Linked DNA regions of Homo sapiens. The protein of the gene in region 2 purifies or fractionates together with the protein of the main gene of each other region. This does not show direct contact. Each region holds a gene or a part of one and is shown on either strand. Other genes may lie near its edges.

What was found.
Region 1: the proteins of RPS6KA2 (region 2) and GRSF1 purify together in Homo sapiens (affinity purification with mass spectrometry; 2 studies listed by BioGRID and IntAct, with this or other methods). This does not show direct contact.

What each region holds. Positions count from the first base shown.
Region 1 is NC_000004.12:70,836,323-70,844,883, forward strand, and holds the start of GRSF1 (G-rich sequence factor 1), read right to left. Parts: upstream 3,569-8,561; 5' UTR 3,506-3,568; coding exon 3,149-3,505; intron 2,940-3,148; exon of another isoform or gene 2,858-2,939; coding exon of another isoform or gene 2,855-2,857; intron 2,824-2,854; exon of another isoform or gene 2,670-2,823; intron 1-2,669. UniProt on the Homo sapiens protein: Regulator of post-transcriptional mitochondrial gene expression, required for assembly of the mitochondrial ribosome and for recruitment of mRNA and lncRNA. Binds RNAs containing the 14 base G-rich element.
Region 2 is NC_000006.12:166,624,252-166,633,388, forward strand, and holds the start of RPS6KA2 (ribosomal protein S6 kinase alpha-2), read right to left. Parts: upstream 3,001-9,137; 5' UTR 2,769-3,000; coding exon 2,670-2,768; intron 1-2,669. UniProt on the Homo sapiens protein: Serine/threonine-protein kinase that acts downstream of ERK (MAPK1/ERK2 and MAPK3/ERK1) signaling and mediates mitogenic and stress-induced activation of transcription factors, regulates translation, and mediates cellular proliferation, survival, and differentiation.

The DNA.
Region 1 (8,561 bases), on a different chromosome or scaffold from region 2:
GGAAATGAAGAATTGTAAAAAGAGTTGCATTTACAGGTAAAAAATGTAAAAAAATTCTTAGAAAATGTTTATTCTACAAACTAACATTCTAGATGTTATTTCAGAAGCAAAAAGTAAACTTCACCAATGTAACCCATCCTGTTTTGGCTTAAATTGTACATCCAAAAGCCATAAGCAGGTATATCCTAAAGGTTTGGCAGGACACAAATTTCATTCAGGGTTTGTTTTAAAATTCATCAACCCCAAATTATAGCTAACAATAGTGTAGTTAAGGCAACACAAGAAAGGTCCTGACAATTTGACAAATATTTGATTGCCCCTACACACAGTGTTTGCCGCCCTCATCTGAAATAGCTATCTAGAATACGATAAGCATACAAGATGAGATACTGAGTGCTATAATTAAGATACAAAATACTACAGGAATTCAAATCAGAGCACTAACAGATGAATCAGGATGTGACATGAGATGGGCCTTGAAGGAAGGATAGAATTTTTATGAGGATATAAAAGATAGGGTATTCCAGTTTGAAGGCGAGAGAAAGAAGCAGTACGACCAAATGCCCATTTGAATAACAGCAATTAATTCCAACTGTTTAAATTAGGAGCCAAAGAAGGTGACCTGGCAAAAGAGGTTGGTACCATAGAGCAGAGGGCCTTGAGTGTGGAGCTCAATGTGTGTCCTTCACTTGGTAGGCAAAGATAAGTTAATACAAGACACTGAGGACTGGGTAAATCAACAAGACAGCAGGACGCCTTGGGAATATTCCTCTGTCAGCTGGTATGCCAGACCAAGTGATTAAGGGAAAGATCTTAAAGACAACGGCAGCAGTGTGAGGCTACAGACTTGTAAAGTCTCTTTTATCGGATTAAGTAAAACTGGAATTTAGTAAGAATCCACGAAGCACTACAACCATAACCTAAGAAGACAACTCAGGCTTTAAGACTTGCACTCTACTGGGCCAGGTGCGGTGGCTCACGCCTGTAATCCCAGCACCTTGGGAGGCCGAGGTGGGCGAATCACGAGGTCAGGAGTTCAAGACCAGCCTGGCCAACATGGCAAAACCCCATCTCTACTAAAAATACAAAAAATGAGCCGGGTGTGGTGGCGTGTGCCCGTAATCCCAGCTACTCGGGAGGCTGAGGCAGGATAATCGCCTGAACCCGGGAGGTAGAGGTTTCAGTGAGCTGAGATCTCGGCATTTCACTCCAGCATGGGCAACAGAGCAAGACTCCGTCTCAAAAAAAAAAAAAAAAAAAGACTTGCACTCTACCGGACTAAGGACAGAGATATCTTTCTACTATCTGTCATTTTCTTTTCTTTTCTTTTTTCTTGAGACGGAGTTTCGCTCTTGTCGCCCAGACTAGAGTATAATGGCACAATCTCGGCTCACTGCAACCTCCCCGGGTTCAAAGGATTCTCCTGCCTCAGCCTCCCGGGTAGCTGGGATTACAGGCGCCCGCCACCCCGCCCGGCTAATTTTTTTGCATTTTTTTAGTAGACACGGAGTTTCACCATGTTGGTTAGCCTGCTATCGAACTCCTGACCTCAGGTGATCCACCCGCCGCAGCCTCCCAAAGTGCCGCGCCCAGCCCTATCTATAATTTTCATTAAGGCTTAATGTTAGGCCGGGCGCGGTGGCTCACGCCTGTAATCCCAGCACTTTGGGAGGCAGAGGCGGGCGGATCACGAGGTCAGGAGATCGAGACCACGGTGAAACCCCGTCTCTACTAAAAATACAAAAAATTAGCTGGGCGCAGTGGCGGGCGCCTGTAGTCCCAGCTACTCGGGAGGCTGAAGCAGGAGAATGGCGTGAACCCGGAAGGCGGAGCTTGCAGTGAGCCGAGATCATTCCACTGCACTCCAGCCTGGGCGACAGAGCGAGACTCGGTCTCCAAAAAAAAAAAAAAAAAAAGGCTTAATGTTTAGTTTTAAGGAATAAATGTAAGCAGTGTCTAACACATAGTAGATGCTCTACAGATATCACCGCAGTCAATTTCATAGAAAAAAAAAGAGAGAAGCTAGCTCACAAAGGTTTACTGGAGATGGTTTTGTTGTGGTTTTTGTAGACAACTTTCCCCATTTTTCCATAATTCCATAAGCATCACAAGCTTTTACAGAAAAAGGCAGCGTAAAGTATTGGGCCAGGATTCAAATCAATTAGCTCAGCCACTGGCAGACAGCAGCCATGCTGATTAGCCTCCCAGTCTCCCTAAGTTAAAGGAGAAGCACAAATTGAATTAAGATAAATATGACCTAAGGAATCAGGGGCTGGGTAGTTAAAAAGTGTGCAGACACTTCCCAGATGCCACGTACCAAGAAGAGAAAGGTTCATCTACAAAGCACAAAATATTTGCAATCTAACTACACACCGACTTTTCTAAAAAAATAAAGAAAAAATGGAAAGGAAAACATTGCAAATTCATTCCTGGGACCCCAAGTTGTGTCCTCAACCCTCAACGCTCCCTCCCATTCACCCCCTCCCCCCAACAGCTAAATCTCCAAACTGCTTTCCCAGACGAGGCGACACACAGTCCTTAAAGACCTTCTGTATGAGTGGAGTTGCAGAGGTGACCTTCAGTAAACCGGGACAGCTCGTCTTTCCCTGGGGACAGGAGAGGGAACGGCGCGATGGGGACAGGCTCCTTCCCTACAAGCCAGCCCACGCAACTGTGTGCGCGCACCTTCCCAGCAGCGGCCGACCGAGAGGCGCCGAGGGCCGCCCAGGCCTAGCGCTCGGGCTGCACGGAAACTCCCAACCCTCCGGCGGGCTCGGGCCTCGCAACTTCACAACCAGCCGGCGGAAAGCAAGAAGATGCGAGGTGGGGGCGTCAGCAGCCTCACGAAACCTACCATGGGCCAGGCGGGGAACAAGGCCTCAACATTCACCCCAGCCACACTTACACTGCCCAACCGACCAGAGACTCGAGGCGAGAACAAAACAAGCAGAAGACCCGACGCCTGGGAGAGCTTCCCTTGTTCCAGGGCCCAATAGGAGCACAGGGTGGACGGGGGCGGGTGTGCGGCGAGTGTCGCGGATCCCCGGGCGTGCCCGCGAGGCGCACACGGAGGGACGGAGGGGCGCGGGGGCGCGTGCACGCGGCCCGGGAGGGATCTCGCGCCAGGTCCCTCACGGCGCCCACGTACCTGGCTGTAGCTGCGCGTCGGGACGGCGGCCGCCGCCGCCAGCGACTGCGGCAGCAGAGAGGCACGGAGGGCAGAGTAGGACGCGGCGGCCGCGGCCGCGGCAGAGGTGGCCACAGCGGGAGGCCCCGCCAGCCTCCCGGGAGGCACAGGCCCGGTCTGGAGGCCACGCGTCTGGGAGGCAGCGGCCGCGGCGGCCCCGAGCAGCAGCAGCAGGCGGCGGCGGCCCGAGACGCCCGACGGGATAGAGCCAGCGGCGGAGTAGAAGGGCAGGCAGGCGGCGCCGGTGCGCCGGCAGCTGCTGCAGTTACAGCCGCAGCCCCGGAGCAGCGCCCCGAGTACCCAGCGCGTGCCGGCCATGGACTCCGGAGGCGGCGCAGGGCCTGAAGGCAGCTGCTCCAGCAGCGATGGTGGAACGGAAGTGGAATCCAGGGCCGGTTGGGGGTGGGGTGTGCCTGGCACATGCGCCGCGGGCACTGGGTGGGGGGCCTCCGAGAGTCGGAAGGAGGTGGAGGAGAGCGCGACGCTCCGCCCAGTCTCCGCCCTTGGGCGGGGCTGCCCATGGTTTGGGCGGGGCTGCCCATGGTTTGGGCGGGGCTGCCCATGGTTTGGGCGGGGCTGCCCATGGTTTGGGCGGGGCTGCCCATGGTTTGGGCGGGGCTGCCCATGGTTTGGGCGGGGCTGCCCATGGTTTGGGCGGGGCTGCCCATGGTTTGGGCGGGGCTGCCCATGGTTTGGGCGGGGCTGCCCATGGTTTGGGCGGGGCTGCCCATGGTTTGGGCGGGGCCCGGGGAAGTGGGTGCAATCGAACTGCTCTTTTTTCAGGCGGTGGAAACTGAGGCCCAAAGTAAGTGAGGCTAGGGGCCTGGCGCAGTGACTCATTCGTAGTGACTCATTCTTGTAATCCTAGCACTTTGGCAGGCAGAGGCGGGTGGACTGCCTGAGGTCAGGAGTTCGAGACCAACCTAGGCAACACGGTGAAATCCCGTCTCTACTAAAATACAAAAAATTAGGTCGGACGCGGTGGCTCCCGCCTGTAATCCCAGCACTTTAGTAGGCCGAGGTAGGGCGGATCACCTGAGGTCAGCAGTTCAAGACCAGCCTGGCCAACATGGTGAAACTGTGTCTCTACTAAAAACACAAAAATTAGCCGGGTGTGGTGACGGGTGCCCGTAATCCCAGCTACTCAGGAGGCTGAGGCAGGAGAATCGCTTGAACCCAGGAGGCGGAGGTTGCAGTGAGCCAAGATCGTGCCACCGCACTGCAGCCTGGGCGACAGAGTGAGACGCCATCTCCAAACAAACAAACAAAAAAATTAGGTTAGGGCCATCCTGCTCTGGGTAGGGCCGAGAGCTGTAGCACAAGTCTGTGCTGCCCTGCGCTGTGCCACCGAAACCCGTGGTGTGAGTGGCTAAAGAACCCTTTCTGAAAGGAATTGTGATACCTTGGTTATAAAAAAATCGTTGGGATAATATCAGAGATTTGGTACCCCCCGAATTTGAGGTATGTGAGGAAGGAGAACTTCGTTGTTTTAAAATGAAATATAGGCCTGGCGTGGTGGCTCATGCCTATAATCCCAGCGCTTTGGGAGGCTGAAGTGAGAGGATCACTGGAGCCCAAGAGTTCCAGACCAGCCTGGGCAACATAGGGAGACCCCGTCTATACAAAAAATAAATAAAGCTGGGTGTGATGGCGTGGGCCTGTAGTCCCAGCTACTTGGGAGGCCGATTGCTTCAGCCCAGAAGGTAGAGGCTGTGGTAAGCTATGATTGCCACCACTGAACTCCAGCCTGGGTGACAGAGTGAAACCCTGTCTCTAAAAAAATAAAAGAAAACATATATATTTATTATGTACTGATAATACATAACAAAGGTGAACCCTCCCCTAATGAAACTGTATTCACAAGTGAACACACAGAGATTTGCACACACATACACAAAGACTGGTTGTGCAGCTTTTCTCCTCCTGAGCCAGGACTTGTCAAAGACAAGCAAAAGGAAGTTGTTAGAGTAAAAAATAAGAGAAAGCTAGTATTTTTAAAAACTCCTTACTGTGGAAAATGTCAAACAGAAGAGCAGAATGAATTTCCAGAACTTCATAAATTGTCAACACTTTTCAGTCTTGTTTCATCTATCCCCTACCACCATCTTCCAGACCTTATTTTCTTTGCTAGAATATTTTAAAGCAATGGGTATTACATTTAAAGTTTGACTTGTTTAACCTGGACTACTTTTAGGTAAGGAAAATTCAGTATTTCTTAGAAAACCCTTTCCCCAACCAAAAAACAAAGAACAAGAAAAAAATTGATAGGCTTGGCTCTATGAACCTGGAGTATCAAAGAAAAAGGGGTTTAGTTTTGTTTTTTGGGCTAAAATACAGTCCGACGGAGAGTATTGTCATTTTTATACAAAAACAGGGACAAAAGAAAAGGCAACAGTGCAAATACTCCATCTTCCAGGAAGGGAGGCTGGGATGCCTCAGTGTTAAAATGACAAAAGAAAACCCCAGAGCAAGAACCATGATCCCTCAGAGGAGTCCCAGAAATGTCCAAGACAGCCTGGCTGGGAGAGGGGGTGTGGGAAGGGCAGGCCCCCAAGAGAGGTCCCCACATCCTCTGGCTAGAGGCTAGGCCCAGGACCCACCAATGCCAGCAGCCCTCACCTCCCTTTGGGGTGAGAGCAGGTGCTGAGGTCAGGCTGGTTTTTGTTTCCCACTGCTTGTTCGTGATTTGTTCTTGGATACCTGGAAAGGGGCCAGTTGAGGCCTCAGGGGTTGAGGCCCCTCTGGAAATGTGGTTCCTGGGAATGGGCCTGGACATAGAAGCCACTGGATGTCTCTTCCCTGAACAGTAATTTTGTTCATCAGTAATCCTGTAACTTCCCAAGGAAAACAAAGAACAGGCTAGTCTTCCCCACCCCAGCCAAAAAAGAGAAGGGGGTTTCTTCATCTGCAAGATTTGGGAATCCTAGAGTTACTTATTTATATAGAGACAGGGTTTTGCTCTTTTGCCCGAGCTGGGGTGCAGTGGTGGGAATATGACTCACACTAGCCTTGACCTCCCGGGTTCAAGTAATCCTCCTGCCTCAGCCTCCCAAAGTGCTTGGGATTACAAGCATGAACCACCACACCTGACCTATTTTTCTTTTCGTAAGCCTCCCTTTCAAGAAGGAAAATGGGTTAGCCCTTCCTAACAGATCATCACTACAAATAACAGGTTGCTGATGTATTGGAGACTCTGCCTATATTTACTCTTGCCCTCATTTTCTTAATAGCAGCAGTCATCATCTATAACATAAAAATCTGAATGGATTGGAAACCTAAATAGACAGAAATCCTGTACTTTATAATCAGGAGTATAAATAATAAGAGGCAGCCTGGGCAACCTGGCGACATCCCGTATCTACTAAAAATACAAAAAATTAGCTGGGCGTGGTGACACCTGCCTGTAGTCCCAAAAGGTCACACGCTCTCTCACAGCACAAACTGACCCTAAAACCGGAGCCCACAAGGTTGAGGCTTCAGTGAGCTGAGACCGCACCACTGCACTCCAGCACTCCAAAGTAGCACCTGCCATCCTCATGACAGAGTGAGACCCTGTCTCAAAAGTAAATAAATAAATAAAATTAAATTATAAGAGGCCATTGGTTTGGACTGAGCTCTTCTACTATGCCCAAAAGACCAAACCAAAATGCAGTTACTCACCTTCCACAAGACCAAGCTGAAACTAAGTTTATTTGACCTTCTGAGTAATCAGGAGAGACAGATAATGGCCAAATCCTCAAACAGACTGGTGTTAGCTGGCAGGATAAGGAAGGCCCCTTTGCTTTGACCTTTATAGGGAAAATACCTGAAACAACCAATCTGCTTTGTATTCTCTGTTTCTACTTTCCTTGGCCCTTTTCTATCTACAAACCCAACCTCCTTTGCTCAGCTCATCAAAACACTCACTCTATAGAATGAGATGTTGCCCGATTCTAGAATAGAAAATAAAAGCCAATTAAGATTTATAAAAGCTGAGGCCGGGCGCAGTGGCTCAAGCCTGTAATCCCAGCACTTTGGGAAGCCGAGGTGGGCGGATCACCTGAAGTCGGGAGTTCGAGACCAGCCTGACCAACATGGAGAACCCCCTCTCTACTAAAAATACAAAATTAGCTGAGCATGGTGCGCATGCCTGTAATCCCAGCTACTCAGGAGGCTGAGGCAGGAGAATTGCTTGAACCCGGGAGGCAGAGGTTGCAGTGAGCCGAGATCGTGCCATTGCACTCCAGCCTGGGCAACAAGAGCGAAACTCTGTCTCAAAAAACAAAAAAAAAAAAATTTCTAAAAGGCGTGTGCGGTGGCTCACGCCTATAATCCCAACACTTTGGAAGGCCGAGGCGGGCAGATCACTTGAGGTCAGGAGTTCAAGACCAGCCTGGCCAATATGGTGAAACCCCATCTCTACTAAAATACAAAAATTAGCTGGGCATGGTGGTGTACACCTGTAATCCCAGCTACTTGGGAGGCTGAGGCAAGAGAATCGCTTGAACCTGGGAGGTGGAGGTTGCAGTGAGCTGAGATCGCGCCACTGCATGCTAGCCTGGGCGACGGAGAGAGACTCTGTCTCAAAAAAAAAAAAAAAAAAGATTTGTAAACTAAATTCATTGTAATTTTGTCTTTTGACAGTTCTGGCAACTGACAAAGGGACCTAAAGGACACTGCTGATGACTTCTGAGACTCCCGGAGGAATATCAGAGAGGTGCCACAGAGCCACAGATGCCTTTTGAGGTCCTCGGTCTTCCTCATGGAGCCTCAAGGGTTATAGGTAAGTTCCGCTCGGGTGGACTCCTTTTTTTTTTTTTGGCTTTTGAATTTAGGATTAGTTTATGCTGTGAGACAGTGCATGACCTTTTGTGGTTTGCAGTGGCTGACAAGTCATTGGCAAGAGCTGCAGTTTTGTCTTGGCTGGGTGCGGTGGCGCATGCCTGTAACCCCAGCACTTTGAGAGGCAGGTGGATTGCTTGAGATCAGCCTGGCCAACATAGCAAAACCCCGTCTACTAAAAATACAAAAATTAGCCAAGTGTGGTGGTGCGCCCCTATAATCCCAGCTACTCGGGAGGCTGAGGCATAGGAATCATTTGTCTCAAACAAACAAAGAAAGAAACAAGCAGAAAACAAAAAGAAAAAACAAACAAAAAGAAGAGACAGGGGTCTGATGCTATTTTCCGGGCTGGAGTGCAGTGGTTATTCACAAGCACAATCACAGGACATTACTGCCTCAAACTACTGGGCTCAAGCGATCCTTCTGCCTTTGCTCTGAGTGCCTGGGATTATAGGATTACAGGTCTGTGCCATTAAGTCTGGTTTAAGAGCTGCAGTTTTTTTTCTTTTTTGGGGGGGGGGGGTTTGTTTGTTTTTTAGTTGTTTACCTTACT
Region 2 (9,137 bases):
TCTTTGTATATTTCAAAATATAAATTTCACAGAAACAATTTTAAAATGTTTCCTATTATAAAACAAGTTATCTTTCTCATTCATCCACACAGAGGAAATACACATCTGTGTTCAGTACTTTGTGTCCTATTTCTCAACCTCAATCCATTGACAGACCTCCCCTGCTCAGTTTTACATTTTTTGATGAGTGCTTCTTGGCCTATAACCAGCTGTGAACACACAAACGAACAGGCAGCCTTCTCAAGTATGGGTAGGGCGCAGAAGAGGAACTTACTGGACTGGGGCACAAAGTCAGCTGCTTGTGAGACTCATCACTGGGTGGAAGTGCCCTGAGGCCAGGACTTCTATGTCTCGTGTCTTTTTGGACACAGTATCCAGAAAAAGACCAGCCCAAGACCCGGTCCTCCATAAACACTTGCAGAATGAATTCCTTGGAAAGCTTTTAACAAGACTCTCAAACTCTCAGGGTTTCTTCCCCTTAGCAATAGAATGAGGAAAGTTACATATGCTACCCCGATTTTCACAAGTATCAAATAATAGAAAGCTGGGGAATGCATTTGTAAAAAAGAGAGCATTGTATTAGCATTGACCTTTTTTTTTTTGAGACAAGTCTCGCTCTCTCGCCAGGCTGGAGTGCAGTGGCGCAATCTCGGCTCACTGCAACCTCTGACTCCCTGGTTCAAGCGATTCTCCTGCCTCAGCCTCCTGAGCAGCTGGGATTACAGGCACGCGCCACCATGCCCAGCTAATTTTTGTATATTTAGTAGAGATGGGGTTTCTCCATGTTGGCCAGAATGGTCTCGATCTCCTGACCTCATAATCCGCCCGCCTTAGGCTCCCAAAGGGCTGGCATTACAGGCATGAGCCACTGCGCCCGGCCATTATTGACCATCTTAGTGAGACCTCCAGCACCTAGTACGGGATCTGGCACACAGGAAGCACTAATTGACTACTTGCTCTTAGACTACATGTATTTTCAGCCCATTTGACCTCCTACATCGCTGATGGTTTATGTATGACTTCTAGAAATTTTATTTCTACATGGAAGAAACCTCGTTTCCTATTCCCACCACCCCCCCACCCCCCCCCCCGCTTGTTTCCCACTGTATTCTTTCCGGAGGCACGCCTGCAGCCCAGCCCTCCTTGCAGAACCCTGTGACACCAGAGGCGTGTGTATCCAGAATCAGGCAGATTCCTGAACTCCCACTGGTCAGCCAGTGTCTAGTGCTGCTCTTCATAAACAATGCCTGGAGTGTGCTCACACGTGTACCTCTTCTTGGCAAAGACAGTAAATGGAAGGAGACAAGGAGTTGTCTAATAAACTTGGCATTGAGATGAAACAGGAAACAAAGACATGTATCCGGATAAAGATAAATACTGTTCTGAGTTTCTGATCTTGTCAACTTCAGATTTTTTAAGTGCCTGTGTCCCAGGAAAATGATTTGCCTCACTGGTGTGCTTCATTTCTTTCAATATTAGACTTAAAAGCAAGCCCTCCTCCAGTACTGGATTAACAGTTTTGTTTGAAAGATGTGTTTTACCCTCGGGAACCGGCCATACTGATCCTATCTAGTACTTCCAATTCTGATTTAGGGATGCCATAAGAGAAACTTTTTAAACAAGTAATTCTCTTCTACTTTTTTGTCTATTCCTCAGGTCTCTCAATGGTTACAGAACCCATGTCTGTGTCTAATATCATGGCAGCTGGGACAAAGAAAACCAAGATGAAACATTTGAGATTGTTCCAGCTGAAACAAACCAACCAAAACCCCACAGGTGCCAGCCTTGAGGCAAAGGCGGGACAGTGTCAGGCGAAATCTTTGGGTCCCAGCCTCAGTCTCCCCATCACCATGTCTTTTTCACTTAAACACGTTTCACTGTTTTGTCATCTATAGATTCAACAATGTGATTTGGACACTGGGAATAAGAGAATAAGATTTGATGGTTGAAATAAAACACACCACGAGAGAACCGTCCACAAGGAAACTCTAAGATGCCAAGATGCGGGACAGGTAGAAAGGACAGGGCTTTGGGAGTACTCTGGGTTTTCAGGACGAATCTGTATCAGCCTCGGCGCTGCGAGGATATTGCATCAGGCTCTTTACTCCTGAACGCCGTTTTAGACGCCTAAGCAGATTGTGCTGCTGCCTGTTCTTCCCCGTTCTGTGAATTCTACACTGACTTCAAGTGCACGAATGAGCTACAAGATAAGGTGGAACCTGCCGGCCGGGCACGGCAGACAGCACCTGATCAGCGCCTCGGAGGGCGGAGCTGGGGGGCTTCTCCACTCGGGACTTTGAGGGACCCCCGCGGAGCGCTCCGCGCCACTCGGCGGTCTAGCTGCAGAGAAAGCCCCTCCTCACCCGGGGCTCCCTGTGGCCCACAGGGGACCATCCCACACCCCGTGCAGCCAGCGGCGGAGAAACCAGCTGGAAATGCAGTGGGGGTGGAGTTGCCCCCGCGAGGACCCACGGACCGCCCAATTACTACGGAGTCCCAGCGATAACGTTTGGAGCCGTTTGGTTCGATTTTCGGAACCGGACCAGCTTTCCAGTAACTTGAACTCCCTGACGGGTCTCGGGGTCCACCCAGGGGTGGCGAGGCGGGCTCGGGCGACCACGGCCCGCTCAGTGCCCGGCACCTGCGCGCCCCGAGGGCGGCCGCATTACCTCGAGCCGGCTCAGGCTGGAGCTCTTGGAGCGCGACTTCCTGCGCAGGTACACAGAGAAGAACCTGCGCACGGCGAACTTCTTCATGCTCAGGTCCATCGCCCCGCGCCCAGCCCGGAGCAGCCGCAGGGCCGGGGGACGCGCATCCCCGGCATCCCAGGCGCGGGGCTCAGGTCCGCGGGCGGGCACGCGTGGCCAGGGAGCCCGGCACGGCGGCCATGGGCGCGGGGCGTGGGGCGCGAGCTGCGGTCACAAAGGGCAGGCCGCGCCGGCCACCGCGGCCGGGGCCACAATCGCTCCCTCCGCCTCCTTCTCCGCCTCCCCTGCGAGTACCAGCGCCGGCCACGCGCCACGCCTACACCACGCCCACCACCACTACCACCAATCAGCGCCCGCCGCTCCGCGCCCCGGCACGCACACCTCCTCCTCCTCCGCCCCGCCCCGCCACTACGGCCAATCAGCGCTCACCACCCCTCCCGTTCCCACCCACCACCAGCACTGCCAATGAGAGCCCACCGCCCCGCCCGGGAGAGCCCCGCCTCTGCCGATACCTCCAATCATCAGCGCCGCCCTGTGGTTCCAGGTGCCCATCCCTCCTCCTCTTTCTACTCCTTCCTACAAGAACCAGCTCCGTGCAGCCCCGCCCCCACGCGGTTCCGCCCACGGCCCCGCCCACAGCACTGCCCGCCAATCAGTGCCCGCAGCCGCCGCATACCTAATGAGCCTCGGCCCGGGACAGCTCCCGGCCCGGGCGAGTTGTGCAGCTGCTCCGGAGCCGCGCAGTCGCGGGCGTTCCTGTCACGCAACTTCGGCCCGGCTGCTCTTTCTTCCAGCTTGGGGCCGTCATTATGTTTTCCTTCCTTAAAACATCCCTATGCACACTTTGTCATCATGTTTTTCTCTGCCGAACCAAACTTTAATTGTTGATCAGCAAACGCAGCCAAAACCTCAGCGGCACAGCGAGCGAGGGACCGCCGCCTGCCAGCGGGCCCTGCAGCTCGGCCAGGAGCCGCCCTCCGCGGAACCGGCGCCTTCCCTCCGCCGGAGCGGACAAAGGCGCCCGAGGGCGGGGGCTCAGGCAGCCCTCGGGGCGCCTCCCTCCCGCGGCTGCAGAACAAAGACGCATCCGCCCTCCGCAGCCGGTCCCGCTCTAGGAAACGTCTACACAGATGGCTTATCAGGGCCCGCGCTGGGAATACCCGGGCGGGGTGACCTGGGTCTAGGGCAAGGCCCTCAGACCCGCTGCTGGCGGCAGCGCCGCTCGGGATCCGCCTTAAAGGGAAACACTTTTTTCTTTTTTTTCCTAGAAATGCTCACCAAGGGCTGCAGCAGGGCCGAGAATGCGGGCTCACGACCCCGTGCAGCCTGCTCTGTTTTCCTCTTGTGCACGTGTTGAGTTTGTATTTAAAAACAGGGAGAAACCGAGCCCATTGACATAGCACCATCACCACCTGCAAAGAGCAGAAACGAGTGCGGTGGTGAGTTGACAAGTCTTGCTTGCTCTTTTGCAGTGCGAACTGCAAAATCCTCGCGTTGTTTTGCTCCCTGGACTAGTCAGATGTTGCGTTAATACTTGTGTAGTCTATTTTGGCTAAGGTGGGTAGAGAGGTCAGAATGTCCTTAAATAAGAGCTTTAAAGTCATGCTGCATCCGGGCTGAGGTGAGGTCAGATAGGCTCTCTGGGTTTCCTGGAGACCCGCGTTGAGCGGTGCTGCTCCGGAGTGGAAGCCGGGAGTTTAGCACCACGACTCTGGCGCTGCCCCTTCCTTGCTTGGTGAACTTGGGTGCCGTTGCACGTTGTTCCCACGACTCATCTCTAAGAGGAAAATACGAGTGAAACCTGTCTCACCTCCCTTACTGGATACCAAGAGGCTTATGCAAGATCACGGATGTGGGAGTGCTTTGTGAATTTAAATAGTGCAATTGATTTTCATATTATGTATTAAAGGATCTATAATGACTATTCTTTAAAAACAGAAGTGCAGGACCCCACAAGGACACCAAACACCACTTTTTGCTCCTTTTCAAGATGGTGTGCCAGTTAAGTGCCCATGAAAACTGCTTTGCCTGCTTCCTTTAAGGTTCTGCTGGGAGGGTAGTAATCTGTGCTCTCAGAACCAGCCTCTTAGTGCCCTGTATCCCTGCTGGGACCCTCAGGCATCCTGGCTCTAGGCAAACACAAAGACACTCTGTACCCAGCACGGGAAGAGGTAGATGGACCTCCAACTGGACACAGACTCCGGGAATGAGGGAGGACCAACCCGACCATGCTTCCCTCGGAAGGGGAGCCAGTAATACTGGCCGGAGACAGGAGTGCTGAATGCCACCTATACCAACTCATGGGCATCCTGTTCAGGACAAAAGCCCCAAGGCAGGCAGGCCTAAGTCAAGGCTTGTGTTGTACCAACAATAGTATTTTGACCTGATCTGACAAAATTGGAAAGGAAATATTTCATGGGACATTCATTAGTTCCCCAAATTTGAAGGCAACAAAACTGTTCTGTTGAACTTGGGAGGGAAAATCATTCAGATTTCACTGGAATTCATTGCTAGAACAATAAATCTGTTTGCCTTTGTTTTTCTCCTGGTAAAATACACGTATACCAAAATCTCTAGTGATCATGGAACACTACTTCATGTGATTATGTAATGAAATCCTCCAAAACCACTAAATCTAGGGTAGGTATAATATCAAGACCCACTGTAACCGAAATCCAAATTATCCTTACCAAATACCAGAAAAGAAAGTGAACTTGATAAAGGCTCTTGCCCAGATGATGGAATGGGAGAGGACTGAAGAGAAGATAAAGAGCTTGGTAGACCTCTGAGTATCTCACATTTCCTCTGACTCAAGCACAGTAAGTTTGAGACTGAATTCCGTGGTGACTGCTGCTTCTATGAGTACCAGATTAGCTGATGTGTGGTCAATGCAATTCCACAAGTGATTATCGAGCACTAACATCTGGCACTGTGGTGGTCATTTGTGACACAAAATGATTACAACATCCCAAGAAGTTCACAGTCTTATGGAAGAGAAGGTGAGTGAACAGACAAAGCTCATGCCGTTTTTATGTAAAGTGAAAGAAATGCGTAAGAGATGAATGAGAAGCCAATTCTAATTGGCGAAGTCAAGGAGGAGATGGCCTTTGCTCTGAACCCCTGAGGGTAAGAAGATGAGGGAATAAGTTTCCTGGACAGACAAGAGGAGGCGGGAGTCCCAGGCTGAGGAATAACAGGGCACTGTCAGGCAGCTGTGACAAGGTTTCCCATCTCTCCCTGCTACACAGGCACCTTGTGGGTAAGGCTGGTGTGCTCTCTGCATATGGGAAGATGCCACATTCTCGGGGCACCCCACAGGAGTGGCTTGAGTGACATCCAAGAGCTTCTAATTAGTCAAGTACCACAAATGTCTGTTCGTCTCCAAACAGTCCTACAGGCTGCTGAAAGTTTCAAGCTTCTAAAACTCCCACATATTTTCAATAAAACGCTAAATTGCACTTCAAGTGAAACTATATATCTTTAAAATAAATTGAAACATTCGGTCTTCATTAGGACTAAAGTTTTGCCATGGGAGGTGAATTCACTAGGTTCACCTGATGCAAAACTTCACCAGGATCACCAGGGTCACCTGGTGCTGGCCATCTGCGAAAGCAGGAAGTCGTGCTTTTCCGGAGTATCAGCATTCGAAGGCTCTGCCCATCACAGGCATCCTGCTGGATGCTCCAGAGACAGTGTCCAGCCAGTACGAGGGAGGGAGGTGGGCTTCAGTGTGTGCCCCTGTGAACTACTTCCTGTGGCTGTGATACAAATGGGTTTAGTCAAGCTTCCCTTAGTGTAGTCCCTGAGTGTACAGAAAGGAATCCTTTTCCTGGGCTGTGGATCCCCGTGTACTTGAAATGTTTATGACTTTGAAGTTTCTTGAATGTAGGAATTAGTCCTTGCTCAGGAAGATGGTCTTAAAGTCCTGAGACCCTAGAAGGTAAACTGTAGTGGACAGTTCAGGTGGGGGCACGTTCGGAGCAGGTGTCAGCAAGGGGCCTGGAGCTGTCAGGGAAGGGCTTCTTGGGCCCTCGGCAAAAGTCAGAAGGGATCAAGTTTGCCTCTGGTCTCTGGCTGGCCCCTGGCCCTCACCCACAGGACACTTGGGTCTCATTCACATCTGGGTGCCAACCAAGCCATGTCAGAATGACACCTGTGCCCTCAGTTTAACAGTTTAAAATCTCTGAGCATATCGAAAATTTAAAAAGAAAGTCTTAATGCGTAAAAGTCTTCAAAATGACAGAAATAAAGCTCTAATGGTGAAGTACCAGGAAATGGAATTTACATTTGAAACCAGAGGGCCTGGTTTCTGAGTAGTCAGGAGAGGCAGGTGGAAACCCACAGGCCAGTTGTACTTGACCCTTATTGACTGGCTTACATTTAGGAAGAAAAACCACATTGGGTTTCAAGCTGTGGAAACCATCATGGTTGGCTTCCTCCCTCCCCGCTGGAGCCCTCATCCCCCATCCAACCTGGGTAGGAAGGCACAGGGCTCACAGAAGGTGGGCTTCACCTGCAACACCTCCCCCGCCAGCCCGCTGTGAGGACAGCTTTGGATTTTATTGGTTTTTAAATACTATGTTCCTTCATACCACTTTCTTTTGAAACCCATTTATAAACCATAGGGCCAGAATCTACAGAGAGGCTGATCAAATAACTTTCCTGGTAACACAGATTTTTTTTCGTCCCTCTGCCTGGGGCACTCTGGTGCCTTCCATGGTGTCAGCGGAGCACGGCTGGAGTCATGACTCCCAAACAGCGAGAAGGGAGGGCCCTGCCTCAGTGAGCCCTTTTTCTCTTTGAGACAGTGGAACCCAAGAGATAGATGCGAACACACAGAGCAGTCATAGACACAGCGGAGCAGAGACAGACCAGAGAGAGGCTGCGCGGCAAACGGAGCCCAGACAGGTGGCACCTCAGGGCAGCACCAGTATCAGCTAAGGTGTAAATGCCTCGAAAAGACCTAAATCAAACACCACATGAGAGAGATGAAATTCAGACAGAGAGGCGGTGGGGACAGCGCTCCTCTCCGCACATTTCCAGGATACTAACTCCAGCTGCCATGCGGTGCCTTCAACCTCCAGGACCTGTCTGCCTCATAGCTGAAGCTTTGTACCCTTTGAGCAACATCGCCCTTCCCCACCCCCAGCCCTGGGGAGTTTTTAGACTCCACAGATAAGTGAGATCATGGACATTTGTCTCCCCATGTCTGGCTTATTCCACTTAGTATGATGTCCCCAGGCCCACCTGTGTTGCCCGCAGGTAGCTATGTGAGATGATGGGTGTGTTCATTAGCTTGATTGTGGGAACCCTTACATGAGGTATACCTACAGCAAACACCATGGGGTGTCCCTTAAATTATGCAACTTTTGGCTGCACGGGGTAGCTCACGCCTATAATCCCAGCACTTTGGGAGGCTGAGGTGGGCAGATCACCTGAGATCAGGAGTTCGAGACCAGCCTGACCAACATGGAGAAACCCCTTCTCTACTAAAAATACAAAATTAGCCGGGCATGGTGGCGCATGCCTGTAATCCCAGCTACTCGGGAGGCTAAGGCAGGAGCATCCCTTGAACCTGGGAGGCAGAGTTGCAGTGAGTGGAGATCATACCATTGCACTCCAGCCTGGGCAACAAGAGCGAAACTCCATCTCAAAAAAAAAAAAAAAATTTCTTTGTCAATTATACCTCAACAAAGCTGGAGAAAATAAAAAGAATGAATGAGGAAGGACATACAGAAATCAACAGCAACAACACAGAGGAGAAAGACCAGAAGACAGACACAAAGACCAGGAGACCAAGAAGGAACTTAACCCAAAGGAAAGGAAACTGGGAGCCCGAGCTTAGTGAGGGAGGAGAAAGCAGGGACAGACAGCGCAACTCAGGAACAGGGTCGGGGAGAGGCAGAGGCACACTGAGCGGTGTGGGGAGGCCAGAGGACAACGTGGACTCAACATGGGCGTGAAATACCTCGGGGCCGGGCGCAGGGGCTCATGCCTGCAATCCCAGCATTTCGGGAGGCCGAGATGGGCAGATCACTTGAGCCCAGGAGTTCAAGGCCAACTTGGGCAATATGGCAAAACCCATGTTTTCTCTACTAAAAAATACAAAAATTAGTTGGATGTGGTGGTGTGTGCCTGTGGTCCCAGCTACTTGGGAGGCTGAAGTGGGACGATCACTTGAACCTGGGAGGCGGAGACGGCAGTGAGCTGAGATCGTGCCACTGCACTCCAGCCTGGGTAACAGAGTGAGAGCCCATCTCAAAAACACCAAAAACCAAAAAACAACCTCAGAGGAGATTGCCTAAGTCCACAGAGCAAGAAAGGAAATTGGGGCAGAGTAAAGGGGTGAGTTTCTTCTTCTACCTCTGGCCAGTGTGTAAGGATGGGATGCTCAGAGCTAGCAGTACTTTGGGCCCATGAGGTCATGCT